2 separate regions of the Homo sapiens genome follow, and region 2 is linked to region 1. Evidence: fine-mapped expression QTL. A gene starts in region 1. The other region holds a variant in brackets. All regions are shown on one strand. Distances are between the middles of the regions.

What was found. PIP is the estimated chance that this variant, and not a neighbour inherited with it, causes the effect.
Region 2: its variant is fine-mapped to the expression of CLEC12A in whole blood (INTERVAL, PIP 0.91).

The regions. Positions count from the first base shown.
Region 1 is chr12:9,964,210-9,981,757 of GRCh38, forward strand. It overlaps CLEC12A (C-type lectin domain family 12 member A), which reads left to right and starts at 7,200. Exons shown (of 6, transcript NM_138337.6): 1 at 7,200-7,478; 2 at 14,757-14,855; 3 at 15,127-15,315; 4 at 16,373-16,524. The coding sequence starts at 7,388.
Region 2 is chr12:9,930,486-9,946,524 of GRCh38, forward strand. LINC02470 (long intergenic non-protein coding RNA 2470) reads right to left here and starts at 13,010. Exons shown (of 5, transcript NR_104634.2): 1 at 12,645-13,010; 2 at 12,004-12,087; 3 at 9,424-9,608; 4 at 8,578-8,685; 5 at 6,094-6,329. It overlaps CLEC2A (C-type lectin domain family 2 member A), which reads right to left and starts at 1,885. Exons shown (of 5, transcript NM_001130711.2): 1 at 1,790-1,885. The coding sequence starts at 1,844. The variant G/A (reference allele first, on the strand shown) is at 10,078.

The sequences.
Region 1 (17,548 bases):
TGGACCTGTCTAGAAAGTAAATGAGTTCATCAGGAGGGTAAAGGTGAGGGCTGTTAAAGGAAGTTTGGAGGTGTAGGAGACAGGAGATGTTGCCTAGTCTGCATGTAAGGTGGGGACAGCTGTGTAGGCATTGGAAGAAAGGGAAATGCAAAGCTAGAGTTTGTTCGCTAAGGAGGGATTAGAAACAGCTAGGAGAGAATGAGTAATGTTTATAGTGTGGTGGAGATAGCTGGGGAGAGGTAGAGGGTGGCATAAGAATGGGAATGAGAATAAGATTGAGTATAAAAGTAAAGAATAGAACTTCATCAGGGTGAAAGTATTGGAGGGTCCCCTGCCAGCAAAGATTATCTATCCCCTCTGAGAGGGAGTTAAGAGTTGCCAGTCCTGGGTGGGGGCAAATCCTCGAGCTTGATGTGTAGGGAAAGGAGGGGGCCTGAATAATCTATGAGGAGGAGTAGAATAGTAGATGGAACAGAAGTTATTTCCTTGAGGATAGATTTCCACGATGGAAAGGAAATGAGAGGTTCTAAGAGGTGGGCTGGTGACTTGTACTATAGCATAGCCTGCCTTTGCTGGTGTGTGGCGATTAGGCCTGGTGGAACTACTATGAATAAACTAAGTGTGTTCAGGGTGAGGAACACGAAAGAAGGAAATATGAGGAAAAGGGGTGAATGTCAGGTGAATCAGAGAGATACAGTCATAGGGGTCAGGTGTGGTATCCAGAATACTGTGGGAGGCTGGATTGAAGTCTGGGCCAGGAACAATGGTAATTGTCAGAGACTTAACAAAAAGGGAGTGTAGCTGAAGGAGCCAGGGAGCAGAAAGTGTATGCGTCAGGTGGGAGAAAGAAAATAGATTTTGGAAATTATGAGAACCGTAGAGAATGAGTTGGGCATAGTTTGTGATTTTTTGGGCCTCTAAAAGTATTAAAGCAGCGGCAGCCACTGCATGCAGACATGAGGGCTAGGCTAAAATGGTAAGGTCAAGTTGTTTGGACAGAAAGGCTACAGGGTGCGGTCCCAGCTCTTGTGTAAGAATTCTGACTGCCCTAACCATGCCTAGGAAGGAAAGGAGTTGTTGTTTTGTAGAAGGGATTGGGGTTTGGGAAATTAGCCGGACATGATCAGCAGGGAGAGCACATGTGTTTTTATGAGAATTATGCTGAGATAGGTAAGAGATGAGGAAGAAATTTGGGCTTGACTGAAGTAATGGGGGCTGTCTGTGAAGCCTTGCGGCAATACAGCCTAGGTAATTTGCTGAGTCTGATGGGTGTCAGGGTCAGTCCAAGTGAAAGTGAAGAGAGGCTGGGATGACGGGTGCAAAGGAATAGTAAAGAAAGCATGTTTGAGACCCAGAACAGAATAATGGGTTGTGGAGGGAGATATTGAGGATAGGAGAGTATATGGATTTGGCACCATGGGGTGGTTAGGCAAAACAATTTGGTTGATAAGGCACAGATCCTGAACTAACCTGTAAGCCTTGTCTGGTTTTAGGACAGGTAAAATGGGGGAATTGTAAGGGGAGTTTATAGGCTTTAAAAGGCCATGCTGTAGCAGGAGAGTGATAATAGGCTGTAATCCTTTTAAAGCGTGCTGTGGGATAGGATATTGGCATTGAGCGGGGTAAGGTGATTAGGTTTTAATGGGATGGTAAGGGGTGCAGGATCAGTCGCTAAGGAGGCAGTAGAGGTGTCCTATACTTGTGGGTTAAGGTGGGGAGATACAAGGGGAGGATGTGAAGGAGGCTTTGACCTGGGGGAAAAGGTGGCAATGAGGTGTGGCTGTAGCCTAGGAATAGTTAGGGAAGCAGATAATTTAGTTAAAGTGTCTCAGCCTAATAAGGGAACTAGGCAGGTGGGGATAACTAAAAAGGAGTGCTTAAAAGAGTATTGTCTAAGTTGGCACAAGAGTTGGGGAGTTTTAAGAGGTTTAGAAGCCTGGCCATCAGTACTTACAACAGTTATGAAGGCAAGGGAAACAGGCCTTTGAAAAGAAGGTAATGTGGAGTGGGTAGCCTCCGTATTGATTAAGAAGGGGACGGGCTTACCCTCCACTGTGAGAGTTACCTAGAGTGTCTGTGATGGTCCTGTAGGCTTCTGAGGTGATTGGGCAGTGACAGTCTTCAGTTGTTAAGCCGAGAAGATCTGGGAAGGAGTCAGTCAGAGAGCCTTGGGGCAGAGTTCCAGGGGCTATGGGAGTGGCTGCCGGTGAGATGGACAGTCTGATTTCCAGTGGGGTCTTGCACAGATGGGACATGGCTTAGGAGGAATCTTGGGCTGCGGGCATTCTCTGGCCAGGTGGCCAGATTTCTGGCACTTTTAGCAAGCTCCTGGGGGAGGCAGGCCTGGAGGAATGCCTGGCCACTGTGGTTTAGGCGTTTGGAAGTTCTTGCGTGCTGGAGATGTGGCTGGGGTTTGTCTCACAGTGGAGGCAAGGAATTGCAACTCAGAAATATGTTGCTACTTTGCTGCCTCTACTTTATTATTGTACACTTTGAAGGCGAGGTTAATTAAGTCCTGTTGTGGGGTTTGAGGACTGGAATTTAATTTTTGGAGTTTTATTTAATGTCGGGAGCAGATTGGGTAATAAAATGTATATTGAGAATAAGACGGCCTTTTGACCTTTTAGGATCTAGGGCTGTAAAGCGTCTCAGGGTTGCTGCCAAACGAGCCATGAACTGGGCTGGGTTATTATATTTGATGAAAAAGAGCCTAAACGCTATCTGATTTGGGATAAAGAAAAAGGAACATTAACCTTGACTATGCCTTTAGCTCCAGCCACCTTTTTAAGAGGAAATTGCTGAACAGGTTGGGGAGGGCTAGTCATGGAATGAAACTGTAAGCTGGGCCAGGTGTGAGGAGAGGAGGTGATAAAAGGATTACAGGGTGGAGAAGTGGAGGCTGAGGAAGAATTGGGACCTAGCTCGGCCTGGTGAGGAGGCGAGAGGTCACATGGGTTTGTAGAAAAGGAAGATTAGAAAGACTCAGCGATGCTTGGGGTTGGGACTGAGGGGACAGGCGGGAGGGAAAGAAGGAAGATTTGGGATGAGTTGCATTGGGAACAGAGACTAGGGAGGGACCAATGTGTAAAAGAATGCCTGGACGTCAGGCACCTCAGACCGTTTGCCTATTTTACAACAAGAATTATTTAGATCTTGTAGGATGGAAAAATGGAAAGTGACATTTTCTGGCTATGTGGAACTACTGTCGAGTTTGTATTGGGGTCAAGTGGCATTGCAGAAGAAAATAAGGCATTTAGGTTTTAGGTCAGCTGTGAATTGAAGAGGTTTTAGGTTTTTAAGAGCACAGGCTAAGGGAGAAGAAGGGGGAATGGAGGGCGGAAGCTTGCCCATAGTGAAGGAGGCAAGCCCAGAGAGAAGAGAGAGTAGAGACATGGAGAGAAGGGGTTGGGGGTTCTTGCCCCCAAGAAGAGCGGTACTTGCCGCTAAGGGTGAAGGAGAAGGGGTTGGGGGGTTCTTGCCCCCCAGAAAAGCGGAGAAGGGGTAGAGACATGGAGAAAAGCGGTGGGGTTCTTGCCCCCCAGAAAAGCAGAGAAGGAGTAGAGACACGGAGAGAAGGGGTTGGGGGTTCTTGCTCCCAAGAAAAGCAGTACTTGTCGCTAAGGGTGAAGGACCAAGGCAGGTGTCCCCACATGGTCAGACACCTCTGAAACATGGGTGAATAATCAGGCAGGCATCCCTGCCTGATTCCAAAGGGAAGACTGTCTTCCCAATTCCGTGACTGGTGCCGGAGTTTTGGGTCTATGAATAAAACGCGTCTCCTTCATCTCTGTCAGAAAAGGAAAGGAACTGAAATTAAGAGAGAGATTGAAGGGTGATGCCAAGATTGAAAGGAGAAAGAGGTTGAGGGATAGTGAGAGAGGTTGGAGAAGAGAGTAAAAAGAGGCCACTTACTGGATTTAAAATTGGTGAGATGTTCCTTGGGCTAGTTGGTCTGAGGACCAGAGGTCATAGGTGGATCTTTCTCATGGAATAAAGAGCAGGAGGACAGGGGATTGATCTCCCAAGGGAGGTCCCCTGATCCGAGTCACAGCACCAAATTTCACTCGCATCCGTGTGAAGAGACCACAAAACAGGCTTTGTGTGAGCAACAAGGCTGTTTATTTCACCTGGGTGCAGGTGGGCTGAGTCTGCAAAGAGAGTCAGCGAAGGGAGATGGGGTGGGGCTGTTTTATAAGATTTGGGTAGGTAAAGGAAAATTACATCAAAGGGGGGTTGTTCTCTGGCGGGCAGGAGTGGGGGTAACAAGGTGCTCAATAGGGGAGCTTTTGAGCCAAGATGAGCCAGGAGAAGGAATTTCAGAAGATAATGTCATCAGTTAAGGCAGGAACAGGCCATTTTCACTTCTTTTGTGGTGGAATGTCATCAGTTAACGCAGGAACCGGCCATCTGGATGTGTACATGCAGGTCATAGGCATATACACAGGCATATGATGGCTTAGCTTGGGCTCAGAGGCCTGACAATAACAACCCACAAAAAATATATAATTTAGGTAATGGATAATGTATCACTTATGTTTAATATTGGAAGACATCTGTAATTATATTTGCAGATTGTCTCTTAGTATTCAACTAGAATGAAAATTGATATAGGTTGATTTCATATCTTGTCTATTGCAAATAGTGCTGCAATAAACATGGGAGTGCAGGTATCTATAGTATATATACACAATGGAATATTATTTGGCCATAGAAGGAAATGAAATCCTGTCATTTGCAGAAACAGGAGTGGAACTGAAGGTCATTATGTTAACTGAAATAAGCCAGGCACAGAAAGACAAATATCACATGTTTCCACTCATATGTGAGAGCTAAAAGAATGAATCTCATGGAAGCAGAGAGTAGAATTGTGGTTACCAGAGGCTTAGAAAGGGGTGGTGGGGGATAAAGATAAGTTGGTTGGGTACAAAAATAAAATTAGATAGAAGGAACAAATTCTAGTATTTGATAGTACAGTGGGAAAACTATAGTTGACAATAATTTATTGTATATTTCAAAATAGCTAAAAGAGAAGAAATGTACTATTCCCAACAGAAGGAAAAGGTAAGTGTTTGACGGAATGAATATTCTTATTACCCTGATTTGGTCATTACACATTGTATACAGGTTTCAAAATATCACATGTACCTCCAAAATACATACAACTATTTTGTATCAATAACAAAATTTTTAAAAAACTGATATAGGCTGTGAAGGGCAAACCATGTAGTCATCTCAGAGCTCAGCTTATTCTTGTGGATATAAATGTTTTAGCTGGCTCTAAACCAAGGATTTTGTATGAAGTAATACTTATTCAAATATTTTCAACAAAATAGAGTACCTTGCAAACAGGACTTTGAGATTTTTCATTTGTTTCCCTTTACAGTTCGTCATATACGCTTCATCTTCTAGTGTTGATTGATGAAACAACGTTCCACATGAGACAGCAGAGCAATAGAACACAGAACAGGACTCTGCCTGTGTGGTGGCCGGTTTCCATCCTTTCACAAACAAAGAGATATTTATAAACAAATATTTATATGCAAATATTTGATCCACCTAGGAAAAATAGAGGGCTACTCTTTCCCACCAGGAGAGGCCTTATAGCCTGTGCACATATTTGAACAAGGCAACCAGAGACTTTGATGGTCTCAACTCTACCACTCACCAACTGTGTGATGTTGGATACAAACTTAACCACTTTGCAACTCACTTCCGCATCTGTAAAATAAGGGTGATAATAATAGCACCTGGTTTAGAGAGTTGTAAAGATAAAAGCAACATTAGTAAAGTACTTAGGATGAAGTAATCATGTTTTGAATATATTTTCCTTTAAATGTGGCTGCCAATATTTTCATGGTAATATTTTCAAATGTATTCAATAGCTTTTTCTTTATCAGGAGAAAATCAGTTGTTTTAATTAAATTGACATTGAATTTTTGATACATTTAGGAGAATTTAGTTTCTTTTTATACAGTATTGACGCTTCTAATCCCACAGCATGTTTTTCTATTTTTTTCTTTTCTTCAATAGTTTTAAAATTTTTTTGTTCATTTTGGTTATGCAAATATCTAGTTAATTTCTATCTGTAATATTTTCCTATTTATTTTTAGTAGCTCTTATAAAGGGAGCATTTTGTTTTTCCTGTCTATCCTGACATAATAAAGCAATTAGTTTTTAATTGATTTTTAAAAATATTTATGCATTCTCTTTCATATGTATAATAATAATACCTAACCATTTTATGATTTACATGTGGCAATGTCAAGAAGAATTTTAAAGTAAGATTTACTAACGAATATTAGAGAACATGCTCAAAAACAGTCCTCTCCACCCCCTCACTTCCACTTGCATTCTTGATCAAGAAGTGAAATAAAAAATACTAAGACTATTGAGTCAAACTAATAAGACACAAATCTGGACTTTGGAGACTCATTTCCCTCCCACTTTTGATAGCTTAGCTGAGGAGGAGATCAAATGGTTGAGTCAGTCTGTAGAGAGATAGCAAGGCTGATTATAGTTTTCCTGGCCTGCAAAGCTGTTTCCAGAGCCCTCAGTATACAGACCTTGGCCATCAGTATGCATACTCTCTGGTGTGGTTTCTGGGCATCAGATCCCTTAATATATAGGTTGGCGCTAAAGTAATTTTGTAAACTTTTAATGGCAAAAACCACAATTACTTTTGCTTTTAATGGCAAAAACCAGAATTACTTTAGCACCAACCTATATATTGTTATTTAGAGAAACTAGGCATTCCCTACCTCTCTTAGGCAAACCTATAGCTATGTAACATGGCAACGGAATGACACTAACTGTCTCATTCTCCTTGGGAGTGCTCTCTGTATGTTCAGTCTCCCAGTGAAGAGAACCCTTCTATCAGGACCTTCATCATCATACAAAAGGAATATCTATGCCAGGCCACAGCTGCAGATTAGTGAGTGTCTGAGAACTGCATCTTTTCTGTTATTTTTCTGCTTGAAAGTTTTTCACCAATAAATCCTACACTATGTCTGCACCATGTGGTGCTAGTTATTTGTGTTCTCTTGCATGACACTGATGATGTTATCCAAACACAATTTCAAAAACTACTTTCTGTAGTTGGTAAATATATAGAAATTGAGAAAAAGGAAGAAATATGAGGAAGAAAGATGTTATCTGTTGCAACAGTTCAATGTTCTTAACTGAAGCCACAGATGAGATTTGGCTCATTTGCAGACATATGGGTGATTGGTACAGTAGGTTTATAAACAGAAGTTTAAACTTGTAAGCTTAAGCTTCCGTTTATAAACAGAAGTTTAAAATTATAGGTCCTGTTTAACATTCAGCTCTGTTAACTCACTCATCTTTTTGTGTTTTTACACTTTGTCAAGATTTCTTTACATATTCATCAATGTCTGAAGAAGTTACTTATGCAGATCTTCAATTCCAGAACTCCAGTGAGATGGAAAAAATCCCAGAAATTGGCAAATTTGGGGAAAAAGGTAAGATTTTGAGTTATGGATGTGTTGTAAGTTTGTATAATAGAAGTGGTTATAGACTTGCATCTTCAATATTAGTGATATAGTTACTATTCAACTTAAATTTTCAATTAAGTCTCTTATGTTTAAGCAAAGGAACAAAAAGTGTATGAACAAAATGATTAGAAAAAAGGGTTTTGTAAAAACACTTATCTCTGCATTGAATAATCAATCTTTTACATTTTTGAAATTTTTTATTATCACACTCAATATAATTGGGACAGAATTTTTCAAATGATTGGGTTGTATGAAGATTTTATTTCTTTATGAGATGAAGCCATGGAAAAAGAAACATGTTCAGGAAAGTCATGATTTCATATGTGTGTGTGTGTGTGTGTTTTTTTTTTTATAAGAAAATGCTTTGTGTCAGACAGAGAGACCTTTATAGGATTTCATTTGACTATCTACCAAACTAAGCATAAATCACCCTAAAATTTCTCCTACTTCTTTTGGAGATTTTTTACTAACTTACTAAAAAATAAAACATGTTAAGTTAAATGAAATGAATCATTAAGGAATAAAGGAAGAAAAGAGGTAAAGAAATATCAGAAGACATAATATATTCATAATATTCAAAACCACATTATATCAAGTAACTTTGTATTTTTCAATTCAAATTAAAATCATGAAATAAGTGGTCCATCTGTGTTGACTTTCACTTAAACAAAACTACTCTTCATCTTACTCAGAATCCTATAGTTTTCCTATTATGTATGGTTCTTGCCTTCTGGCTCCTAGCCTTTTGGGAGTGAAATCTGCCCTAGCGAATCCATAGTTTAAATCAGTGTATTTGAGTTAAAAATAACTTAAACAGTGATAGTGGAGAACACAAAGAAGGGTGATAGAAACAGAAAAATAAGGAGAGAAGAGTGCCAAAATTCTCACATATTATTTAAGTTGTTGTCCTCTCTCCTCTCCCCACACAGAATATAACATCTTTAATATTCTAGCATTGCTATAAACAGAAATTTCACTGTTACATCTTGGATCCATTTATGATGAGCATTGTAAATCTTGAGAAAGGATAGCAGATTAATTCTGTTGGCTTCTTTTTTAATACTGAAATTTTTTTTTAGAAAGAAGAAGGGTTTAAGAATTTTACAATATTTTCTGTCTTTATTTCCTTGTTTATATTTCTTCTTTTATACACTGAAAGAGAATGGGCATATCATGAGCCTAATATTACCAACAATTGCCCTTTACTTGTCCTCTCACACCCTTTCCCACCTCTTTTCCTGCCAATCCACCTTAAGTTCCCACCACAAGAATTCCCTGAATTCACGGAAATATTGAATCCATGTCTTCTTCATGTTCTTAATCTCATCTAATTTTCTCATTATCGAGCTTAGAATCTACATTATGTAATATAACATTGTATTATGTAATGTCTACTCTTAGTCTCTTACACTTCTCCTCTTCAATGTGTGTTAATTTTTCCTTAAAAACTCCAGCTCTGGCTAGGTGCAGTGGCTCATACCCATAGTCCTAGCACTTTGAGAGGCCAAGATGGGAGGATTATTTGAGGCCAGAAGTTTGAGACCAGCCTGGGGAAAGTAGAGATATGCCATGTCTATAAAAAAAAAATTTTTTTAATTAACTGGGCACCCATAGTCTCAGCTGCTTGGGAGGCTGAGGAAAGAGGATTACTTGAGTCCAGGAGTTGGAGGCTCTAGTAAGCTAAGATCAGGCGAGTGTACTCCAGTCTGGGTGACACAGCAAGATCCTGCCTCAAACAAATCAAAACAAAACAAGACAAAAACCCCAAAAACAAACAAATAAAAACAACTCCAGTTCTGGTTAAACCCGAATATCCACCCAGTCTGCCCCAGAGTTGAATATTGCTGGTGAAAAATACACAAATTTTCAACCCCAGTTACTCTCACCTTTCCTCTGGTAAGAAAAAAGCATCCATCTACACTTTTTTTTGTTGTTATTTAAATGTCTATCCTACCATGTCCTTACTGATACTCTGCTTTCCTTCCAGATAGTATTTACGATAAGTATGTACTTATGAAGGGACGGCTCCTCATTTTGCTCTGAATTTCAGTCCATGTGTCGTTTTCAAAGACAGACTTCCGTAATTTTTTCCTTTCTCTCCTGTGTCATTATTCTCTCTTCCTTCTCTGCTTTTCCTTTTTGGTGCACCAACATACTCTACTACTCACCAATATACTCTGCTACTCCTTTTATAACAAAACACAATCCTTGCTTGACCACTTAAGCCTTTCCATTATTATTTAACTTCTTTGTTTCCTTTCACAACTCAACTTTTGAAAGCATTTTCTTTGGCCACTGACTCTCAGTTCTTCACCTCTCATTCTGTTCTCAACCAACTCTATTAGGCTTCTGCCCCCTTGGTGCCATAGAGACTGAGCTTTAGGTCACTGATGTCCTGCCTGTTTCATCCCAATAGTCACATGTCTCTTCCATTACTTCACTTCCCTGCAGCATTGAAAAAGTTGAACAGTCCTCTAAATGCTTTCTTTGCACATCCCTCCTGACACATCCTCATGGCTTCTCCTGTCACCATGCCTGCCTCTCCTCATTCTTTGTTGATTCCTCCTCCTAGATGAAACTCTACAAGATGGAATACTCTGAAGCCCTGTCCTGGGTCCCGTTTTATTGCATCACTCAGTACACTCTTCTAATCTACCTCATTCAGTTGTTTGACTTTAAATAGAGTGACTCCCCAATATCTCTGTATGACCTTTCCCTGAATCTCAAGACTAGAAAATACATGTGCCACTTTCACATTTCCATAAGGAGTTCTAATCTCATTTTAAACTTAAAATGTCAAAAATAGTAATATTTATTTTTCTTCTAAAATTGTCTCTCTCTCCAGACAGCCTCATCTCATTAAATACACATATAAATATATATTTAAATACAATTTTCAAGTGTTTTCTCTGTGCCAGTTCTGTTCTAATTGCATTATAAATATTAAATTATTTAGTGTCTGATACTTTGCAGTCTTTCTGTCTCCCATGCTTTAACCATATTGAAACTCAGACACAGAGATGTTAAAAGGTGTTAAATAATTTTCCCGAGGTTTCACAAGCAATAAGCAGCAGAACCAGAATTCAAACCAAAACATACTGATATGGTTTGACTGTGTCTCCACCCAAATCTCATCTTGAATTGTAGCTCCCATAAGTCCCACATGCTGTAGGAGGGACATGGTGGGAGGTAATTGAATCATGGGAGCGGGTTTTTCCCATGCTGTTCTTGTGATAGTGAATAAGTCTCATGAGATCTGATGGTTTTATAAAGAGGAGTTTTCCTGCACAAGTTCTCTCTTGTCTGTGGCCATGTGAGATGTGCCTTTCACCTTCCACCATGAGTGTGAGGCCTCTCCAGCCACATGGAACCATGAGTCCATTAAACCTCTTTTTACTTATAAATTACCCAGTTGTGGGTATGTCTTTATCAGTCGTGTGAAAATGAACTAATGCAGTAAATTGGTACCAATAGAGTAGGGCGCTGCTGTAAAGATACCCAAAAATCTGAAAGAGACTTTGGGACTGGGCAACAGGCAGAGGTTGGAATACTTTGGAGGGCTCAGAAGAAGACAGAAAAATGTGGGACAGTTTGGCACTTCCTAGAGACTTCTTGAATGGCTTTGACAAAAATGGTGATAAGGCTGAGGTGGTCTCAGATGGAGATGAGGAATTTGTTGGGAACGGGAGCAAAGGTGACTCTTGTTATGTTTTAGCAAAGTGACTGGTAGCATTTTGCTCCTGCCCTAGAAATTTGTGGAACATTGAACTTGAGAGGGATGATTTAGGATATCTGGCAGAAGAAATTTCTAAGCAGCAAAGCATTAAAGACGTGACTCGGGTGCTGTTAAAAGCATTCAGTTTTATAAGGGAAGCAGAGCATAAAAGTTCAGAAAATTTGTGGCTTGACAATGATAAATAAAAGAAAATCCCATTTTCTGAGGAGAAATTCAAGCCAGCTGAAGAAATTTCTAAAGTCATGGGAAGCCAAATGATAATCGCCAAGGCAATGGGGAAAATGACTCCAGGGCATATCAGAGGTCTTCCCAGCAGCCCCTCCCATCACATGCCCAGAGGCCTAGGAGGAATAAATGGTATTATGGACTGAGCCCAGGGTCCCTCTGCTGTGTGCAGTCTAGGAACTTGGTGCCCTGCATCCCAGCTGCTCCAGCCATGACTAAAAGAGGCTAAGGTACAGCTCAGGTCATGGCTTCGGAGAGGGTGCAAACCCCAAGCCTTGGTAGCTTCCATGTGGTGTTGAGCCTTTGAGTGCACAGAAGTCAAGAGTTGGGTTTTGGGAACCTCTGTCTAGATTTCAGAGGATGTATGGAAATGCCTGGATGTCCAGGCAGAAGTTTGCTGCAGGCATGGGGTGCTCATGGATAACCTCTGCTAGGACAGTGCAGAAGGGAAATGTGAGGTCAGAAGCTCCACACAGAGTCCCCACTGGGGTACTGTCCAGTGGAGCAGTGAGAAGTGGACCACCGTCCTCCAGCTCTCAGAATGGTAGATCCACTGACAGCATGCACTGTCCACTTGGAAAAGCTGCAGACACTCAATATCAGCCCATGAAAGCAGCCATGAGGGAGACTGTACCTTGCAAAGCCACAGGAGCAGAGCTGCCCAAAGACATGGGAGCCTACCTCTTGCATCAGCATGACCTGGATGTGAGATATAGAGCCAAAGGAGATGATTTTGGAGCTTTAAGATTTGGTGCCCTTTGGACTTGCATGGGGCCTGTAGCCCCTTTGTTTTGGCCAATTTCTCCCATTTGGAATGACCGTATTTATCCAATGCCTGTACTCTCATTGTATCTAGGAAGTAACTAACTTTCTTTTGAATTTACTGGCTCATAGGTGGAAGGGACTTGCCTTGTCTCAGATGGACTGTGGACTTTTGAGTTAATGATGAAATGAGTTAAGTCTTTTGGGGACTGTTGGGAAGGCATGATTGGTTTTGAAATGTGAGACATGAGATTTGGGAGAGGTCAGGGTGGAATGATATGGTTTGGCTGTGTCCACACCCAAATCTCATCTTGAATTATAGCTCCCACAATTTCCACGTGTTGTTGGAGGGACCTCGTGGGAGGTAATTGAATCATATGGTAGGGGTGTTTCTCGTGCTGTTCCTGTGATAGTGAATAAGTGTCATGAGATCTGATGGTTTTATAAAGGGGAGTTTCCCTGCACAAGTTCTTTCTTCTCTTGTCTGCTGCCATATGAGGTGTGCCTTTCACCTTCCACCATGATTGTGAGGCCTCCCCAGCCGCGTGAAACTGTGAATCCATTAAACCTCTCTTTCCTTATAAATTGCCCAGTCTTGGGTATGTCTTATTAGCAATGTGAAAATGGACTAATACACATGCTAACCCTAAAGATGGTGTTTTGCTTTTTATCACTATGAGATACTGCCTACAAATGTGCATATCTACCAACTTTCTCTAAAGAAAAATTTCAGAAATTTTTGCAATAGATTTTAGCTTAGAAATGTATACTTAATTTATCCATGGGTCATCAAATTCCCTAGTACTAGCTAGTCAAACTTCTGTTCTCTTTCACATGTCATACTGTAACAGATTTCTTACTGATAAAACAACTCTGTTATTTTGCCCTCCTAGATTAAATTCTTCCAGTGGTTTCCCCAAAAATCTAACTTATTCTGGCTAGAAAAGGCTGTAAATAATGTCTCCTCCTTGTTATTTTAAAAACAAAACAAAAGAAAACAAATAAAACCTTTAACATCATTTTTCACATTGGCCACAATTCTTCTGCCCCTCTGAATATATTCTGTTTTTCAAATAGAAATCTTTTCCTTAAATTATTGTCTTTGAACTTCATGTAATTGCTACCTGTAATGTTCTTCCTACTTATTTTGCATGCTGGTTCCTATTCATAAGATTTGAACTGCCTGCTCTCTATAACAGCTTAGTTTTAAATCTCTGCACAACATCGCCAAATTTGAGATCTTTTCTCCCTTTCTTTCTTTCTCCCTGTCTCACTTATATATCTATTTATCTATTTCCTCCTACAATTAAAATTTATAGCTGTGAAAACAGGAACTTGTACATCTTGCTCACTTTGATATTGTTAGCACCCAGGATAATGTCTAATAAATACAAGGCACTCAAAAGATAACTTTTGAATAATTGAACTTTTTAATAATTGAATAAGTTCATTGAATAAATAAACTTGAATAATTGAATACACATATAAATAAGAAAATAATTTTAAGAAAGATAGCACTGGCATTTATAATTCTAATCTTAGATAAAATCTTGAACATGTAGTTCTTTCAGTAGTAACTATTTTCTAAAGTCTATATAAGTTAAGTTTTACTATTTATTAGTAATTGTCTCTGGATTTCACAATATTATTGCACCATCAACTATGAGATGTAAGACATAGCTCAGAAGTATAGTGAGATTATTATGGTATCCCTGAATTGGATTTTCTTGAAATATCTAGCTAGTCTTTACCTAATGTATAATAGCTTTATACATAATGATGATTTAAATAACATAGTCACAATAATAATTCACTCACAAAGTTTATAATTCCTGTTTTTTTTTTAAATAGAGAAATGATCTATTCTGGGCTTCACTATTCATTAAAAAGGAAGTATTCAATAAAAGTTTCTTGCAAAAACACATGAAAATTTTTTTGAAAAATTGCAATAAAAATGGTGTAGATCTGGACTGATTAAGATCAAAAGCTAACGGGAGGACACCCAAAGACATTATGAAAAGACAGCCTATCTTGTTCATTCTGCAGCTAAATTCTCATAATTGCCTGGGGGGATACATAAACAACTGAAACTGTTTTTCTTGACATGCCACAATTGTCTACTCAAGCAAAGACTTCTCCTATTGGCTTCTCTGTTAATTTCCAGCTACTCACTTTTCCCAAATTTGTACAAACAAAATACACTATATCTAGGTTGACTGGTTTTCTCCATTCTCTATTATAAATTCTGTTTTTGCTTATCTGTTTTTTTAAATCAGTCTACCAGTTAACAGCTTCTCCTGCCAGAATCAATTTACATACAAAACAATTAAGTGATTTTGATTTATTCTTGACATATTCTTCAAAAATATTTTTTGAATATTCTTGAATGGCTAGCAAATCCATTTCTTTCCAATAGGCATATTAGGAAATAAAGGTAAAATGAATGAATGAATGAATGAGTAAATAATCCAAATGAAAGTTATACCATTTTTAGGCCTCTCTGTTAATTTTGCTTTCCACAGCACCTCCAGCTCCCTCTCATGTATGGCGTCCAGCAGCCTTGTTTCTGACTCTTCTGTGCCTTCTGTTGCTCATTGGATTGGGAGTCTTGGCAAGCATGTGTATGTACTGCCCCTGTTTTTGTCAAGAGGAAGTATCTAGAATTTCAAATATTTAGCAACAAAAGTTTATTCCTTCAGTGGAAGATTTATAATAATGATAGGTGATAGGCCCACAAGGAGGACTTACAATGTGGAACTTAGTCTCTTTCCCTCACTCCTGTAGAGTAATTGCTTTCCCTACCCCTTTAATCTTTATACTACTTCTGCAAATGATAAAGGATGATGGCTCTATTGAGAATTTACAATTTTTTGTCATTTTTTTAATGTGGAGTTCACGTAACTTTGAAGATAGAAATGAAAAAAATGAACAAACTACAAAACATCAGTGAAGAGCTCCAGAGAAATATTTCTCTACAACTGATGAGTAACATGAATATCTCCAACAAGATCAGGAACCTCTCCACCACACTGCAAACAATAGCCACCAAATTATGTCGTGAGCTATATAGCAAAGAACAAGGTAATCTTGTATTCTCTTGGAGTTATTTATTGGACAATAAACTAAACCACTGAGTCTCTTAAGAATCATTTTATAATTAGCTAGCAGCCTTTCTCTAGGGAGTCATAATTTGGGGGAAAGAATTACATGTGGTTGATGGAGAATTCATTGATATTTCCACGCAGTTAGAAGAAAAACAGAAAAAGTAGTAACAACAATAGGCCCCCAAATTATCAGGAGATAATGGTTACATAATAAAATGTTAGACAAGACAGTTTCTCTAATCTGTCACTTACTATAATTATTCTGGGCACTGAGGTTAATAGAAGACAGGGAGGAAGTGACACCTCTTTACAGGTGACTTCATTCTTAAATTTCAGTCAGTGATTGATAACAAAGTCCATAGAAAAAAATAAATTGAGACTTCACCTTTGGGATCGGGGAGTTGGTCTTTTAGTGTCTCCATAAGTTTCTATAGTCATAGTTGCTAAAACATATTCCTTTTGCTCCTGAGAAACCTCAAAGTTTCAACATTTCAGAGAACAAAAATTAAAGAAGATAAGATTGGTATAGATAGGTGGGGTTAATTCTTACTATACAGAATGTTTCCAGTAATTAGTTTTTATTGTCTTTAAAGAATATACAAAATAACAAAGAGGAATTGACATAGGAAGACACACTTGAATCCAAGTGCTTAATTTGAAATTTTTTTGTTCAAGTTATGTGTCTGACACATTATGGTGGTATATAAGGAACTAGAATACAGGATTCACTTACTTCCCCTTCGATGTAAAAAAAAAAGAAACGGCATGTAATCCCAGCTACTTGGGTGGCTGAGGCAGGAGAGTCACTTGAATCCAGGAGGTGGAGGCTGCTGTGAGCTGAGATCACGCCACTGCTCTCCAGTTTGGGCAATAGAGCAAGACTCTGTCAAAAAAAAAAAAAGGGGGAAAGAGAGAAAGAAAAAGAAAGAAGAATAAACAGCAAATGTGATCAATGTCACACAGAGAGGAAAGGAAATAATAAGAATTATTATGACTATCAACAAAACCCAAATAAAACTATGTTCTTCTTCCAGAGCACAAATGTAAGCCTTGTCCAAGGAGATGGATTTGGCATAAGGACAGCTGTTATTTCCTAAGTGATGATGTCCAAACATGGCAGGAGAGTAAAATGGCCTGTGCTGCTCAGAATGCCAGCCTGTTGAAGATAAACAACAAAAATGCATTGGTAAAGCCCAGGTGTTTCTACCATCATGGGATAGAGAGGGGTGTGGCATGTTGGAGAAGACTTCAATCAACCCACTCATGATTCTGGTTTATTTCAGTTGGGGTGTGAAGTGACTGAAACTTTGTACACTTATCTCAAGATATCATAGGCAAGGTAAAACATACAAGTTTAGGACCTTAGCATAAGAGAAATATTACTAGCTGACAGGTAGATGAGTATTACAGGGCACCCAGAATCTATAGGTCTGTAAGCATTTCCAAATTAGAATCTAGAACCAAATCTCAGAACTTAATTTATAAACATTTATCTAAAAACAGAGGATACAGAGATTATTCCCCAGGATTAGCAATTCCATAAGAACTACATGGGAGAATATGTTTTGTTTCTACCATTTTGTATTTTTTAATTCACTAAGAGAAATAGGCAAGTTATAGTAGGTTAGCATAAAATATGTACAAACAAGAAGAACTGAAGTAAGATGGCACAGGCAAGTGTCAGATATATTGTACTGAGTCCTTGAATCCCAGGAAAAATGTGTTTTCTGGTAGCTTTATTGATTTATTCATTTTCTTAGTTTTCCATGTCTAAATAATGTTTCCATGTTACACTTATTACATAGCATTTTTGGTCTCTCACATAGCAATCATATATTTTTAAGCAAAATTACCTTTTCTAAAATTCTCTGCTTCCCCACAATAAGAAACTTTCATCATCCTTTATAGAAGAGAGATAAATCAACCCACAATCTCTTCCTCATCAGATCATTGTCAAGTGACCCATTCACAGTTACTTACTCTAGAAAAAATTTTTAAAGGCTAGAATAAGAAAAAAACCTGTTATTTGGCTACAAAATTCTGGACTGGTTCTGAATTCTGTTCTGTAACCACTCACATCTGAGTGTGTGGCATTTTTTTCCTACTCTTTCTGTTTCTATTAACTCTTGTTTATAGCCATTACCCACCTCCTTTGGCCCTGGACACAATATTTACTGCTCAAATTTTTTAATCTTGAACTTGTCATTGTG
Region 2 (16,039 bases), 34 kb before region 1:
TCTCTCGTCTTTTCTAATAGCCACCATTTGATTTGTTATCCCTCTCATTTCTTCTCTTTTTCACTAACGTCTCCTATTATCTCATTTTTTAATTTTGTATATTTTTCTTTCACTCTATTGTGCCAGATGCATGTTTTTTTCTTATCTATTTTGTTTGTACACTTTTGAAGTTTCAGTTTGAGGTATTTGGCTTTTATTAGTTTTAGAAGTTGGAATATTATTTCTTCAAATATTTCCTATCCGCTATTCTTTTTTTCTCTCTCTCTGTTTCAGATTCTTGTTATCTAGAAGGTGGCATTTCTACTTCTATTTTTCATATCTCTCAGCTTTTATTTTATATTTTCTAACTGTTTTCTTTTCTGTCATGTTTTTAATAGCATCTCCTAGGTCTTATTCATTCTTAATCAGCGTCCATTCTATTAATTAACTCCTCAAAGTGTTCTTTATTTCAAACACTATATTTCTATAATTATTATTTTCACTTGGTTTTTATTGTGTTCTTGGTGCTTCTTCATTTCATTAATATCTTTTCTTTTGGAGCATTTTTATTATGCTTTAATTAAATTCTCAGACTAGATGTTCTAATGATTCCTGCAGCCCGGCTTTCTCATAATCTTCCAGTACATGCTTCACAGTACTTCATATTTTGTCTTCTCGTTATGCAATGAGATAAATTTTCTTCCACTTTTTACTCTCTAAACTCTTAAATCTGTTACCCAGACAAGCCTGACTAATTTATTTGGCTAAAGGGATGGAATCTTATTTCTTTTTGTAATACTAATGTCCAATTGTGTAAAATGTAGACTAATTTTTAAAAATTTTCTTATGAAGTTTTCATAGATCAAGAGTTCGTAACTATGACCAATAGTTAGAATATACAACGAAGTAAATTTAACCTTACCCTAAAGAAACTTCTAAATAGAACATCCTTAAATTAAAATGGAAAGTCTTCTAAGACAGAGAGATATTATCACTGAAAACATTCTAGTATAGGCTGCTAGAAATGCTGTAGCTAGAAATCGTATGGTAGATGAAAAGTTTTACTAGGTAGCTACTGAGGTCTCTTCAACCTTTAAGAGTATCAGGCTTACTTATTATTAAAAGAATTATCCCAATTGCCCTGGGAATTCATATCAGTAAACTCTGATAGTGGTTTCAGCTGGAGTCCTTAACTCATTTCAAGATTTTACTTTTTATCTCTTCACTGTCTTTATCTTAAAGTTTTGGCAGGCTTCCTATTCCAGTCATTTGGCATACAATTCATTCGTTTTCTTTAACATAAACCCTCAGAACTATTGTGAATGGAGGGTGTTTGTATGTGTACCTTGTTTTTATTTATTGGTTTGTTTATGTTTCAATCCACTGAAAACAAACTTCATTGTTGGCCTTAGCTGAATCTTAAAATTTTTGAAAAGTTCTTTTCAGTCTTATGAAGTCACAATCATCAAGCCTCCTTCCAGAGTGAAGCATTTGCTTTTTATTCTGTATAAAAGTGTTAAGCAATTTTTTCCCTGTGAAAGTACATTTTAAAAATATTCTTATTGAGATATAATACACGTACCATAAAATTCTGCCCCAAAACCTTCTTACACACAAGCTTATACCCTCTCTTGCAGACATAAAACTCTACATGCTCTAACAGGCTTCCACAATTCTCCGGAAGTGCTTCCCCATCCCTCACTTACTTTAGTAGACTTTCACAGTAAGTAAAGAGTCCATATTTTTAAGCTGTCCTGTATTTTGTTTTATCTTTCCTTTACTTCCTTCTCATTCACTCTATAAAACTTACCTATCCGATGTATGAAGCCATCAGCTCTGCCATCCCGCAGCTCTGGATTAATCATGGCAAGGCGCTAACCGATGGAGATCAGTAGGAGAGGACTAGAAAGCTTTTCATGTACATCACTTATTTAGGCACTGAGCAAGCTTCAGTCAAAAGAGACTTAACCAATCCAAATGGAAAACATCAGTACTAATTTTAGATCAAAGATAAAAGTAGGCAGACTTGTTAGTTTAAGGAAGGAATTTAAAAATTAACTCATCCATAACAAAAGGATCGTAAAGTCAATCATGTAAACACCACAACAACCGTGCTATGGAACATTTCCATCATCTTTCTTTTTTTCCTTGTGTAATCACTATCTTTTCTGACCCTGGACCCTGGCAAGCATTACTTTGCTTTATATCAACATAGTTTTTCCTTTCATGGAATTTTTTTTTTTTGAGGCAGGGTCTCACTGTGTTGCCCAGGCTGGAGTGCAGTGGGGAAAACTTGGCCCATTGCAACTTTGACCTCCTTGGCTCAAGCAATCCTCCTGCCCTACCCACCCAAGTAGCTGGGACTACAGTCGCGCACCATCATGCCCTGCTAATTTTATTTTTTGTAGAGACTAGGTCTCATTATATTGCCCAGACTGGTCTTGAACTCCTGGGCTTAAGTGATCTTCTGGCTTCAGTCACCCAAAGTACTGGGATTACAGGCATGAGCCACCACGGCCAGCCCCTTTCATAGAATTTTATATAAATGGTATCATATAATATGTAGTGTCTTGTCTCTTGCTTATTTCATTTATAATACTTTTGAGATTCACTCAAGTTGTTGTGCAGGTAAGTAGTTCATTCCCTTTTATTTCTTAGTAGTATTCCTATTGCATGTTATACCAGAAATTATCTCTTTGATCACTAGTTGATGGACTTTTGTTTCTAGGGTGGGACTGTTATGTATGAAACTGCTGTACACAGGCATTTTTGTGTGAGCAAGTTTTCTCTTGGATAAATTCCCAGAAATTGAATTGCTGCATCATATAAGTATGTTTATCTTTATAAAAAGCTGTAAAACTGGCTGGGCGCGGTGTCTGTCACCTGTAATCCCAGCACTTGGGGAGGCCGAGGCGGGTGGATCATGAGGTCAGGAGATCGAGACTATCCTGGCTAACACAATGAAACCCCGTCTCTACTAAAAATACAAAAAATTAGCCGGGCCTGGTGGCGGGTACCTGTAGTCCCAGCTACTCGAGAGGCTGAGGCAGGAGAATGGTGTGAACCCGGGAGGCGGAGCTTGCAGTGAGCCGAGATCGTGCCACTGCACTCCAGCCTGGGCAACTGAGCAAGACTCCGTCTCAAAAAAAAAAAAAAAAAATTTGCTTCAGCCTGGAATCTTTGCTTTTGGTGCTTCGGTGCAGAGACAGAAAACGGGCACTCAGAGTCACACTGGTAGTTGCACACTGTATCTGCAGAGGGCGTGTCTCATCTGTACCCCGCTGGGTTACGGGATTTCAGGAGGTATTTTTGTCCACCTGCGAATTCCATTTATTACCTTTCATTTAACAGACAATGTCTTTCCTTTCTGCAGTTGATTTTGCTAAAGAGGCAATTCATAAGGTGAGGTCCTACTCATAGTATGACTTGCTTTCTCACGACCTCCTTCCATTTTTAGTAACTCCCTGGTCTATTTGGTGTCTGTAAAAAAAGAATCTGGTAATGGAGACTTCTTTTAATATGGAAATTTGGCCTGGCAATAACTTATTCCTTTCCACATGTAACTGACCCAATCTGGTTTCCAGATGACAAGTATGCAAGCCCCAGATGTTGAGAAGCCATATTTCAACTGCTTCCTGCATCTGTTGAAATATAATTGTTCATACTTGCCATCCCTTATGTTTCTTGTAACAATTTGCACAGTTCTTGCCAGAATAAATGCCATTCTCTGTATGCTTCAGAGAATTCCGCAATTTGATCAGTGTGTGTGTGTGTGTGTGTGTGTGTGACCTTCCGTAAAACACTTCTAAAGGGTGAAAGCTCTTGTATGGCATAGACATGAATTCCTTCCTCTGGTAATAATTAGGTTATTTCCAGAAGCACAGTGTCATTTTTTTTTTTTTTTTGAGATGGAGTTTCTCTCCTGTGGCCCAGGCTGGAATGCAATGGTGTGATCTCGGCTCACGCAACTTCCACCTCCTGGGTTCAAGTGATTCTCCTGCCTCAGCCTCCTGAGTAGCTGGGATTATGGGCATGCACCACCATGCCTGCCTAATTTTGTATTTTTAGTAGAGACGAGGCTTCTCCATGTTGGTCCAGCTGGTCTCGAACTCCTGACCTCAGGTTATCCACCCGCCTCGGCCTCCCAAAGTGCTGGGATTACAGGTGTGAGCCACCATGCCCAGCCCATTCTTTAAATAAAAGCTTTCCTGTTTAAGGCTTTTCAAAGGAGCAGACCACTTTGAAGATTCTCCCTAGGGTTGATATGTGTCTAATTCATTTTATAAAATTATTCTTATCTTCATTTTAAAGCTTTGGCTATACAGTCAGAAATGTCCTGGATAACAAACTATTTTGTATTTAATTTAATTTGCCTCTTCATTGTCTTATTCAACAAACATTTACAGAATGCCTAATTAGTACTTGGCATTTTTCAGGGTGCTTGAAATACGTCTGTGAACAAAATAGACACAGATTCCTTTACTCATGGGGTTTCCATTCCAGGAAGTTTAAACATAAAGACTAAAGATAGTAAACAAATGGTACAATATTCCATATTCCAGTATGTAATAAGTTCCACTGAAAACAAAAGATAGACCAGGTTAAAATTGATTAGTAATGTCAAGGTTGAGGAGTGTGAGCTGCAATTTTAATAGGGTAGTCAGGGTAAGCATCACTGAGAAAGTGAAATGTAAATGAACTTTGAGGAGGGAAAGTGCCATGTGGATACCATCATCCTGGTGGAATTGTGTGAAGATCCTAGGGCAGATGTATGCCTGGCACATTCCGGAAAGAGTGAGGAAGCCAGCTGTGTCTGGAGGAGAACAGTGAGAGAAGAGTTCAGCTAAGTACCAACAGGGTAATTCTGTTTTTGCCATTCTGAGGCCTGTGGCTAATATTCTAAGTGAAATGGGAAGATGGAAAATTCTTTTGAGCAGAATAGCGGTGTGATCTGACATACATTTAATATGTTCACTCTGGGTACTGTCCTCAGAATAAGTTGGAAGGGGATGCAATCCACTCACCTAGCCTGAATAACTATACTTAAAAATGTTCAAAGTTCTGCTCATGTTCATAAAATTCAACCCGCAGCCCATTATTTGTTCCTTTCTCTTTTCTTCTTTACCTGTCAAATTTTCTCCACTGGGCGCTCTGACTCCTTTTAACATTATTTCTATTTCAGTACAGCTGGATAGAAATGTCATCATTAGGAGATGCAAAGCGGTCCCCTTCTAATGTGATAGTCACCACTCCAGAGATGGCTAATGGAGATGTTTAATGACCTTAAAAATGCATAAGTCTCATTCCCCATCCTCCTTTTGCTAACGATGGTCATTTTTTGTAGCACAATAATCTGAAAATTTTAGAATTATTTTTGTTCTTGTACAGTACAGCATGTAAATTATAATTTAACAACACCTGCATTTAACCTGCTAACACGGTTTACACACTATTAAATCCCGGCCCCATAGAGAATGAGAAGATGAGATGCTGATAAAATTTGCTTCTGATGATGCTGAACATACCATCTATTTTTTCTCTTCTTTTTTTTTTGAGACGGGGTCTCGCTCTGTCACCCAGGCTGGAGTGCAGTGGCGCGATCTCTGCTCACTGCAAGCTCCGCCTCCCGGGTTCACACCATTCTCCTGCCTCAGGCTCCCGAGTAGCTGGGACTACAGGCGCCCGCCACCCCGCCCGGCTAATTTTTTCTATTTTTTAGTAGAGGGTAAGGGGTTTCACCATCTTACCCAGGATGGTCTCCATCTCCTGACCTCGTGATCCGCCCACCTCAGCCTCCCAAAGTGCAGGGATTACAGGCATGAGCCACCGCACCCGGCCAACCATCTATTTTTTCAATATTATTTTCCACATTGTTTGAATGTCTGTAATGTGTGTGAGACCCAGCTGAATTTAAAATGTGGTTCTACCATTTACTATAATCCCAGGTAAACAATCTTTCATTTGCTCATTTATTTCAGCAAAAAATGATAAAAATTCTTCATCATTTAGGGGTAAAAATATTTAGCATAGTTCATGGTACAAGTTAATACTCAAAAGAGAATTACTCATTATATCAGGAAATGTAAAAGCGAAGAAAAGAAAACTAGGCCAAAGTAAAATATTAAGAGGTGCAGAGACTTTAATATCAGCCAGATGTTAACCCTTGCCCTCTGTCCTTCTGAGACCCGTGTAAGTATTAGCTGGAATCTAAACCCCATAGGTTTGTGGGAATCCGGAGAACTCTCCATGATTTCTTCAAGTCACCAGGGCTTCCTTCTTCGTGGTCCTCTCCACTTCTAAATACTCACGTTTTGCTCCCATGACTCATAGCACAAAACTCGATTCTTTCACTAGTTTCAGCAACGACAGCAACAACAAATCCACTTAATGTAAATAATTCGCTAGTTTCATAACTTGACTAAAGACAAAACAAATAGATTAATTCTTTATTTACTGGACCTCCTGAGAAATAACTGAGCACAGCCTCGAAAATAGAACGTAAATTTCATTAGCCCGGTTTCTAAAACACGTGCAGTGTGGAAGGAGTAGAGGAAGTGAAACAAGCTGTTGCTCTCCTCCTATCTTTCTCCAAATTTTACCTCAGGACCCTGATGGCAGGAAGAAAAGGACACTATGTGACTTCAGTGCCTAACAACACAGTCCTGGAAGTTTACGCTGTTGATACTATAGCAAACATTGTAATCATTTTGTGAGGGATTGGATTCTTCCCTTTATACTGTAGCATAAACATTGATATATCAATGTGTTTAGCCATTTAGAAATTATAAAGAAGGGGAGTGTAACTGACATTTCATTGAACATACCTTTCATATATTACAAAATTGGTCTATTAATGCTGAAATAAATGTTCACATTTGGCCACTCTTTATCACCATCACTGTAGTGAAACAGGTATTCTTTACTCAATAGATTACGATACACATAAGTAAACAAATAAAATCTAAAGAAAAGATTTCCTACATTTATATTTTATGCCATACATATAAACATGTGAAATTCAAAATTCAAAACGGAGGAAAACAGGATGGTTAATCATGATACATTTCTGGTTATACTGTAATTATTTGGGGGAACTTCACAGTACTGGTGTACACTTTCCTAACTTCTAGGGTAACTTCAAATTTTTATCCTGCCCATTCCCAAAATATATGTGTATTTTTATGCTTATCCAATCCATAGTGCCAACTAATAACAACCGTTATGGGCTGAATTATAGGCCCCCAAATTTCATACATTAAGTGCCTAACTCCCAGTACCTGAGAATGTAACAGATTTGGAGATAAGGTATTTGTTTTTTTTAAAAAAGAAGTGATTGAGGTAAGAAAAGGTCTTTAGGGTGCACCTTAATCCAATATGACTGATGTCCCTATAAGAAGAAATAAGTTAGACACAGACTTGAGTGTGTACAGAAGGCCACATGAACACAGAGTGAGAAGACAGCCATCTGCAAGCCAAAGAGAAGGGCCTTAAAAGAAACCAACCCTACTAACACCTTGATCCTGGACTTAACGGCCCCCAGAGCTGTCTTTGAGCCACCCATTCAGTGGCATTTATTACAGCAGACTTAGCAAATTAATACACCAATGTTAACTCCTGTCTCATTTTTTGATGGGCCTGTATATAATATGTAATGCCACATTAAGCTGTTAATATTTTCTTTCAAGAAAATATAATATTATGTTTTATAGTCAGAAAGTTTAATCTGTCTTTTTTTTTTACATTTTTCAAAGATAAAATATAATATTGGGTATATTATCCCTCTCAAATCATTGTGCATTTTCACCCCAAATTGAATGTAAATACAATAATCATAAGAGAATTTTCTCAACTTTAGAAAGTTCCGCTACTAACTTTATTATATTATATACAACATGTAATATCTGGCATGGAGTGCTACAGAACCAGTATCTATTACAAAGTGGGCAGTCAATAAATGGTAGCTAGTGGTCACCTTTAGTTCACCAAAGAATACTGAGAACTCAATATCCTTTATATGACCTTCTCCACCCTGACGTTGGAGAAATTTGTAAGTGTTTTAAGAACAAAATAGATTCTAAGTGTATGATGAGTTTTTTCAAGCTATGGAATATAAAGAAGTTCTTGAATTTTAAACAAAGGTAAACTGAGGCAAACACGTTCTCTTCTTAACTTACTCTTGTGCATGTCAGGCCACTGGTGGGTGCGGAAAGTGTAGGCTTCAGTACACTCTCTAATGCTCTCCCATCAATGAAAGGCCAAAGGAACAACAACAAAAAAAACAAAAACAAAAGGCAAGGTCCCAGGTCCAAAGAGGAAAGGATCAAACTGCTTAGACTTGCATCCAGTTCAGGATAAAGGGAACACTTGTGACTCACATGTGGTATATACCAATTCCATATATATACATAAATATTGATATGTGATGCCAAACCCTCACTAAAAACCGTAACTTTGTCTAAATATTCTCTTTGGCATCTATTTTTTGAGGGTCTTTTGGGGGGATGATGTGGAGGAATCTATGGAGGAAGCCAGTTATAGACTCAGAATCTTTACCACGCTTTACACATTTAATAGTAAATACATGTTAGTAAGGCTTACCAATTGCTGAATGTAGCTCCATCTGCCCACATCCACGTTTTGTTTGCATTGTGCTTGCTCAGTTCAAACCAATATAAAGACGGCCCCAGATAATGCATCAAAGATTCCCTTTACAAAATACAGAGTGCTGTCATAGATTTCTTCTAGTTTTCTCATTCTCACTCCCTCCAGTGCCCTTTAAGTCTATTATTATCTTGCACAGTTACTGCAAAGGCCGTATAACATGATTCCCTCCGTTTACATTTGAGACTCAGTAGCCAACCTCATCACAGCAAAGATTATGATTCTTTTAAAACTTAAGTCAGATCCTATTACATTTTCCCTCATAATTTGGCAGTATCTCCCTATTTTGCTTGGAGCAAAAACTAAACTCTTTACAATAGCCTGCAAGACCCTAATGATCCGCATTCTTCACTCAATCCCTCATTTTAGATAGATTGACTGGCTGCTTCTTTTCTGTTCCTTGAATATTCCAGACATTCACTGGCCTTAAGACACACGCTCCAGCCATTTTCCTTTCCTGGAAAGTTCACTTCTAGATAGTCCCTTACCTGCTTCACATCCTTCCTAAAATGTCACCATCTTATTGGGATATAACCTTACCTGCAGTAAACCCACTCCCTTAATTTTCATTTTTTTGCATAAAACTTTCCAACTTCTAACACAATATATAAATTACATATTTAATAAGATAATTTTTCATTGCTTATCTCTTCCCCTAGCATGTAAACTCCACAAGGGCAAAGATCTTTGATTCTTTGGTTTGCTAATGTATTACACCCTAGGAGTGTGCCTGTCTTTTAGTAGCTATTAAATGAGTTTAATATTGCAAAGAAGAAATCTAACCATTTCATTCTGAGAGTTGAGCCTGGCCAGAGATCCATAACTTCTGCAGTTTTCTCAGCCATTGATCCACGTTGTTTCATGTTCAGATTGAAAGAAGCAATTATTATTGATTCAGTTCCAGCCTTGTGGACACATAGTCAAATTTTCTAGGCATGTCTTGTTTCTAAGGTGCCTTGGAATTCCAACTGAAATTAACAGGTAATAGAGAAAAAGAATAAAGAAAGTATCAAAGAAAGAAAGAGTGAGCTTCAGAGTAAAATATTATTATATAGCTCAGACTAATAAAATGTGTTTTACTTACATATTCAATTTGAATGACTTAACTTTAAACATCAATTCAAAAAAATTGAATATCGAGAAGAGAACATGAAAGGAATAAGCACTGGAGAATGAGAGCTATGAAAAATTTAAAAACTCAATAACAAACTTCCAGAAATTCAGTATCTTCCAGCCATTTTCCCTCCTAATTTTTAGACTACATGAATTTTCTTTATTCATCTATTTCTTTCCTAAAATTTACTATGCTCTCTAGAACAAGTTGCAGTGTAAATAAACAAATTTTTCTATATTCATAACTTCAGTGAGCTGGTTCCTATCATCAACTTAACTGAGACTATATTGTCTTTCAAAGACAGCATTTCTCTAGAAGGTGGC[G/A]CTGTTTCCTTGTCCGTTATGAAACAAGAAACACAGAAAAAAGAATGCTAAAATTTCCCTTTTTACTCTCCACTTTTACTCCTTAAGTTACTGCACTAGATAAAGGAAGTTCCTTGTTAAGGTATAATCCTGAAAGAAACAAGCTCTGAGAGCACCTCCTATCCACAACTAAAATAAATGACTGGTTCATCTTCAAATCTGTGAGTGGGAAAATCCTCAATGGGAAGGATCAACTGGCAATATGGTTCTATATAGTTGAGACCTGAGAGTGAAGTGAAAAAATCAAGTTATCAAAGTTATTTGAATGTGTCATGTTCAAAATTATTTTAAAATGTCAAATTCAAATCAATAACCAATATAAAAACCAAATACTTAATTCAAAACTTGGGTCACCAGAAAGGCAGTTTTCTCATTCATTTACTAATTAATTCATTCTTTCATTTACGCAGTCAACAACTACCGATTGAGCACCTGCTACACGCCAGACATTTTTGTAACTCTATGAATAGCCTACATAACATACAGAAATACCTACTCTTATGGGACTTATGCGTCTGAAATTATATAGTTTGTCGTAAAATAGATCAGAGTGAAGGAGAATCAGGGAATCACGGTTGTTGGTAAAATGAGTAGAAAGCAAACCACAAGAATATGGCGTCATGTAAGTCAAATGAAATTTTTTTTTTTTTTTAGAAAAAGGGAGTGCCAAAAGCTGCAAATAGGTTATATAATAAGGTGAGGAGGGAGAATGGACCAGTCGATTTAGCAATATGGAAGTTATTGGTGAACTTGAAAGACAAGTTTGGTGGAAAAAGCAGAGTGGAAGCTTGATCCAAGTGGATTTAACAGAAAAAGGAAAGATAAAAAATTATTTTGAAAAGCCGTTTTAAAGAGGTTGCTGTACCAAGGAGAAAAACAATAAATTGGTTGCTAAAAGATAAGTGGGGTCTAATAAATTCTGTTGTTTTTGTTGTTTATTTTTTCAAGGTTGATATAGATACCAGTATGTCATATTTGCTGATGGAGATGTTTCAGTTGAGGATGAAAAAAGGATAATGTAGGAGAGTGGAGAATTACTAGGGTGATATTACTGATCCAGTGAAAGAATATAGGATCTATTGTAGAACATGAATACTGCATCTACAGTTCCAGGAGTCTAGGCAGAGTGTAGGGGCAGAGATGGAGTAAGTAAGCTGGTGTGGTGATGGGAGCATTTGGAAGTTTCCTACAAATTGTTAAAATTAGAACAAGTTGGAAGCAAGGGTATAGACATGAGAATGAGCATGAGGAGAATGGAGATGAAGGACAAGGTATAAATTGCTAATGAATGGCAGTGAAAGAGTTAATGCACTAGGGAACTATAATACAATTGCCAGTCCCTCACCCTACTTCTTTGTAACTCCATCATAATTATACCTGGTGTGATTCTCTGACATGTGTGTTCTAAGATGATCTTTGATAAACGCCTACTTGAGTTTAAGATTCAGCACAAATATTTCTCCCTTCATTAAAGCCTTGACTACAAGCAGCTAACTTATAATCTCCTCTCCTGCTTCAAATTCAACATAGTTCTATTTAGTAATTATTTCTTTTGTGTTACAGTTGTTTGCTTACATGCTTCCATATTCAGTTAAAGATAAACTACTTTCAGGCAAGAAATACCATTTTTTTTCATTGTTATATCATCAGCAGGCAGCACTGTGCCTAAAGCTTGATACATATTTATTGAAAGACTGATTATTCTAGAAGGTGAAGCAGGTGACTAAGTTTGAAGAGCAATTAGATGCACTGTCTTGGAAAATGCTTTTATCTCTAAATTGTTCTATATTAAGGAAGGAAAGACTAGTTATTGGTATCCAACTGAATCAATAATACAATAATTTTAACAATTTAATTTAATAATTTTAGCAGAAATTGTTTACTTACATTTTCTGGGAAATCTTAAAATCCCCCAAAGAAGAAAAGCAATGCCTCCACATATAAAAATTGAGATGATCATTATTTTCCTTTCTATTATACCAAAGAGAAACAGATGTCATTGTTTATGTTCCAGAGAGAAAAAAAGCAAGCAAACCAACAAAAAACCCATCATGTTTATCTCTTTTCTCTATCTTCCGCGTGTTCTACTGTTCACAATTCAGCAATTAATGTATTAGAAAAATAAGAAAGGGAACTAAGACCTAACGTTTGAACATCAGGAGCCTCGAAGGTGCTTTGGCTCCACTTTCCTGTGCTATTTGGCAGAACTGTGTTACTAATTCTTCTGCCCTGCTTCCAGAACAGAAAACCAACAGTTTCCTCGCAGCGTCTTTTAATAAAATACTGCCTTTTCCAAGGGAAAATTCCAAGTATTTTTAATGAAATACTGTCTTTTCCAATATGATGGAGGAGGCTGGAATCGCCAATTATCATTATTATTGAAGTCTTTGTTTTATTAATGAAAACTGCTTTTACTTAAGATCTATATTATGGTCGCTATCCCCTACCCTGCCCTTCCCTCCCAATGCTAAAAGGGTGCAAGCTAGGATCAAGAAAAGATGCTAGAATAATCACACAACCTCACCCACCTGGCGTGTTGGTCTGCTGCTCCACAACCTCCGTCCCATCCTTACTCTCCATCCCTTCTCCCTCCATCTCCAACCCTCACGAGGAAGGCTCATCCTTCTGTGTGTGATCACAGAGGCTGGAATAATCCTGCGGGTGAATTGCAAATTGCTAAGTATATTTGGTGAGTGCAAACCGCAGGAAACTGACGACCCGGTTTTTCTGAGGGGTGGTGCGGCAGCAAGACAGTAGGAGAAACAGCACAGCAACCTAGCATCCTCCACTCAGCCGCGCAGGTGGACTTGGGCCAGATGGCCCCCAGGGGCGTGTCATGTGCCTTCTCTGACGTTTGTACGAGGCAGGGGCAGCAACGGCAGCCGGGCATGCACCAACGGTGCCTCTGCCCCGGCAGCGATGACTCTACAGCCCATGATTTCCGCAGCCCACGATTGGCTGGGGCACAGCGATAAGAATTCAACCTAATGGGCACCTCACCTCCCACCTGCTTGGTACGCAGAGCAGAGAATGGGGAGTCCCATACCCTCCCTTTCCGGCTTCTTTATATTGTCTCCCTAAAAATCTCCGATTGGACACAGGTATATAACATAAATTGCCTGCACTGGAAAGTGTACACATTCTCTCACGCCACAAAGTGGATCTGCCCCCATTTTCTTGTTTTTAATAACTTTTTTCTGTTCTACATTTTTAACCACTGTGTTCTAAGTGTACCTGTGGAGTGTTTAGTAAAATGTGGGAAAACAAAGCCATTGTTTTTACATGTTTTCATAGGAACTAATGAAAGCTTGTTTCATATACAGGCAGTTTTTATTTTGCACTGTAGTGTGTGATAATAAAAATTACTGCACAAGCTGATATCACACCAAGCTATTTTAATAATAGGGAAAAGTATGATTTTTCCTTTATCCTCTTTTCCTGATTGAAAATTACTTTACTGTCACTCATAAACGTATAGGGAAATGTAAACAACAATAAAATTAATATTTTTAAAGTATGCTATAATTAAAACATTAAAAACACTGAGTTTCAAGTGTTTTGCTTAAAAGAAAATGAGTAGTGTGAATTGAGTACGTGCTGTTGTTGTTCTATCGCTTACAATATGGAGCCAGCATCTTTTAGATGCCTTCTCAAGCTTTTTTATTCCTAAATTTGGATAGACTTCCAATATACTATTCTTTGCACTTGAAATGTTAGGAAACACATTGAGAGTTCATTTGATGTGAACACTTTAGCTCGTATAACTTCCTCTGGGACCTCTTCATTCTTTTCATCACAACCACTTACCTTATTTTTGTCAATAAGTGTGCCTTTACTAAATTCCTCTGGTTGCATTATCTAGAGACTCTTCAAAAGGTGAATTATTAATAACCCTATCAACAGCTATTGCTTCTCTAACTTCATTTCTCTTCTATTTTATTTCCCCTTTCAGCGCCATCATTTTTTGCTGCACTTTGTGTCACTAACCAATTTCCTGTTTCAATTACCTTCCTCTTCTTGTCTTCCTGTTTCAAATTTCCTTTGGAATTTGTCATACAGTGACAAACCCATGTGACATTTACAAAATAATACAGAATAACTCTCCATCTTATTCTGTATTAACTGATAAAAGATGCATGGTGACCAATCAATCATTGACAGACTTGGAAAAAAGTGACATGGTTGGTCGTTAATCACAATACAAACATGTATATAGTGATTCGTGAACTGAAAAACTAGCATGGAAGTTTCTACTTTATACAATTACTTACAGTAAATATAATACAAATACAGATAAGTACGCTGAAAGAATTAAACTGTGCTGTTGGGGAGTTATTTAATTAAACTGTGAGAAGTGAAGTTTATGCATATTAGAACCACGCAAAGTAAAGTTTATACACACACCCTACTCCCCACAGACATTCTCTTTAAAATATACATATACGGCCGGGCACTGTGGCTCACGCCTGTAATCCCAGCACATTGGGAGGCTGAGGCAGGCAGAGCATCTGAAGTCAAGGAGTTTGAAACCAGTTTGGCCAACATGGTGAAACCCCGTCTCTACTAAAAATACAAAAATTAGCCTGGTGTGGTGGCAGACGCCTGTAATCCCAGCTACTCAGGAGGCTGAGGCAGGAGAATCGCTTGAACCCAGGAGGCGGAGGTTGTAGTGAGCCGGCGTCCCGCCATTGCACTCCAGCCTGGAGATATATATATATATATAAATTTTCATATATATATATAAATTTTCATATATATACACACACAAATACATATACAAACACATACATATGCATGTATAAGCATATATTGTATGTGTATAGACCTTATTCTATACATAAGAATTATTTATACTTATTTATGTAATGTATTCTTGTGACTTCAGTAATTAATTAGCACAGATTTCAAAGCTATAAATGGTAGAAATGTGGTATCTCACAGTTCTGGAGGCCAGAAGTCTGGAATAAAGAGGCTCTGAGGAAGAACCTGCTTCACACCTCTCTTCCAGCTTCTGGTGGCTGCTGGCAATCCTTAGTGATCCTTACCATGAAGTTGCACCATGCCAGTCTCTGCCTCTATCTTCTTAATGAGTGGAAAATAGTTCCTAGAATTCAACTAGAAGATTTCTCTCATTTTTCATTTACCTTGACAGACCATATATTCCTTCTTAAGATGATAACTTTCAAGAGGAATAGAAACAGTATGACTGGCTTAGATTAAATTCAACCAAATCATTAGAGATAAGATCAACCTCTCCCTCATAGAAGCAAGTATATATATGGGGGCGGGGGGATTGTTTTCTTCTTACAATACTCTTAATATTTCACCTCCTACACCAGATGTGTAGGGAGGGGGTTTCTCCTCAAATCAATAAATTATCTAGGGCAGGGGGCCCCAACCCTCGGGCCATGGGCCAGTACCGGTGCATGGCCTTTCAGGAACGGTCCATGGCCTTTCAGGAACAGTCCATGGCCTGTTAGGAATGGGGTTGCACAGCAGGAGGTGAGCAGCAGGCAAGAGAGAGCAGCTTCATCTGTATTTACAGCTGCTTCCCATCACTTGCATTACTGCCTGAGCTCCACCTCCTGTCAGATCAGCTGCTCATTAGATTCTCATAGGAGTGCAAACCCTACTGTGAACTGTGAATGCAAGGGATCTAAGTTGCATGCTCCTTAGGAGAATCTAATGCCTGATGATCTGTCACTGTCTCCCATCATCCCCAGATGAGACCGTCTAGTTGCACGAAAACAAGCTCAGCGTTCCCACTGATTCTACATTATGGTGAGTTGTGTAAGTATTTTATTATATATTACAATGTAATAATACTAGAAATAAAGTGAACAAAAAATGTAATGCACTTGAATCATCTTGAAACCATCTTCCCCCACCCCAGGGTCTGTAGAAAAATTATCTTCCCTGAAAT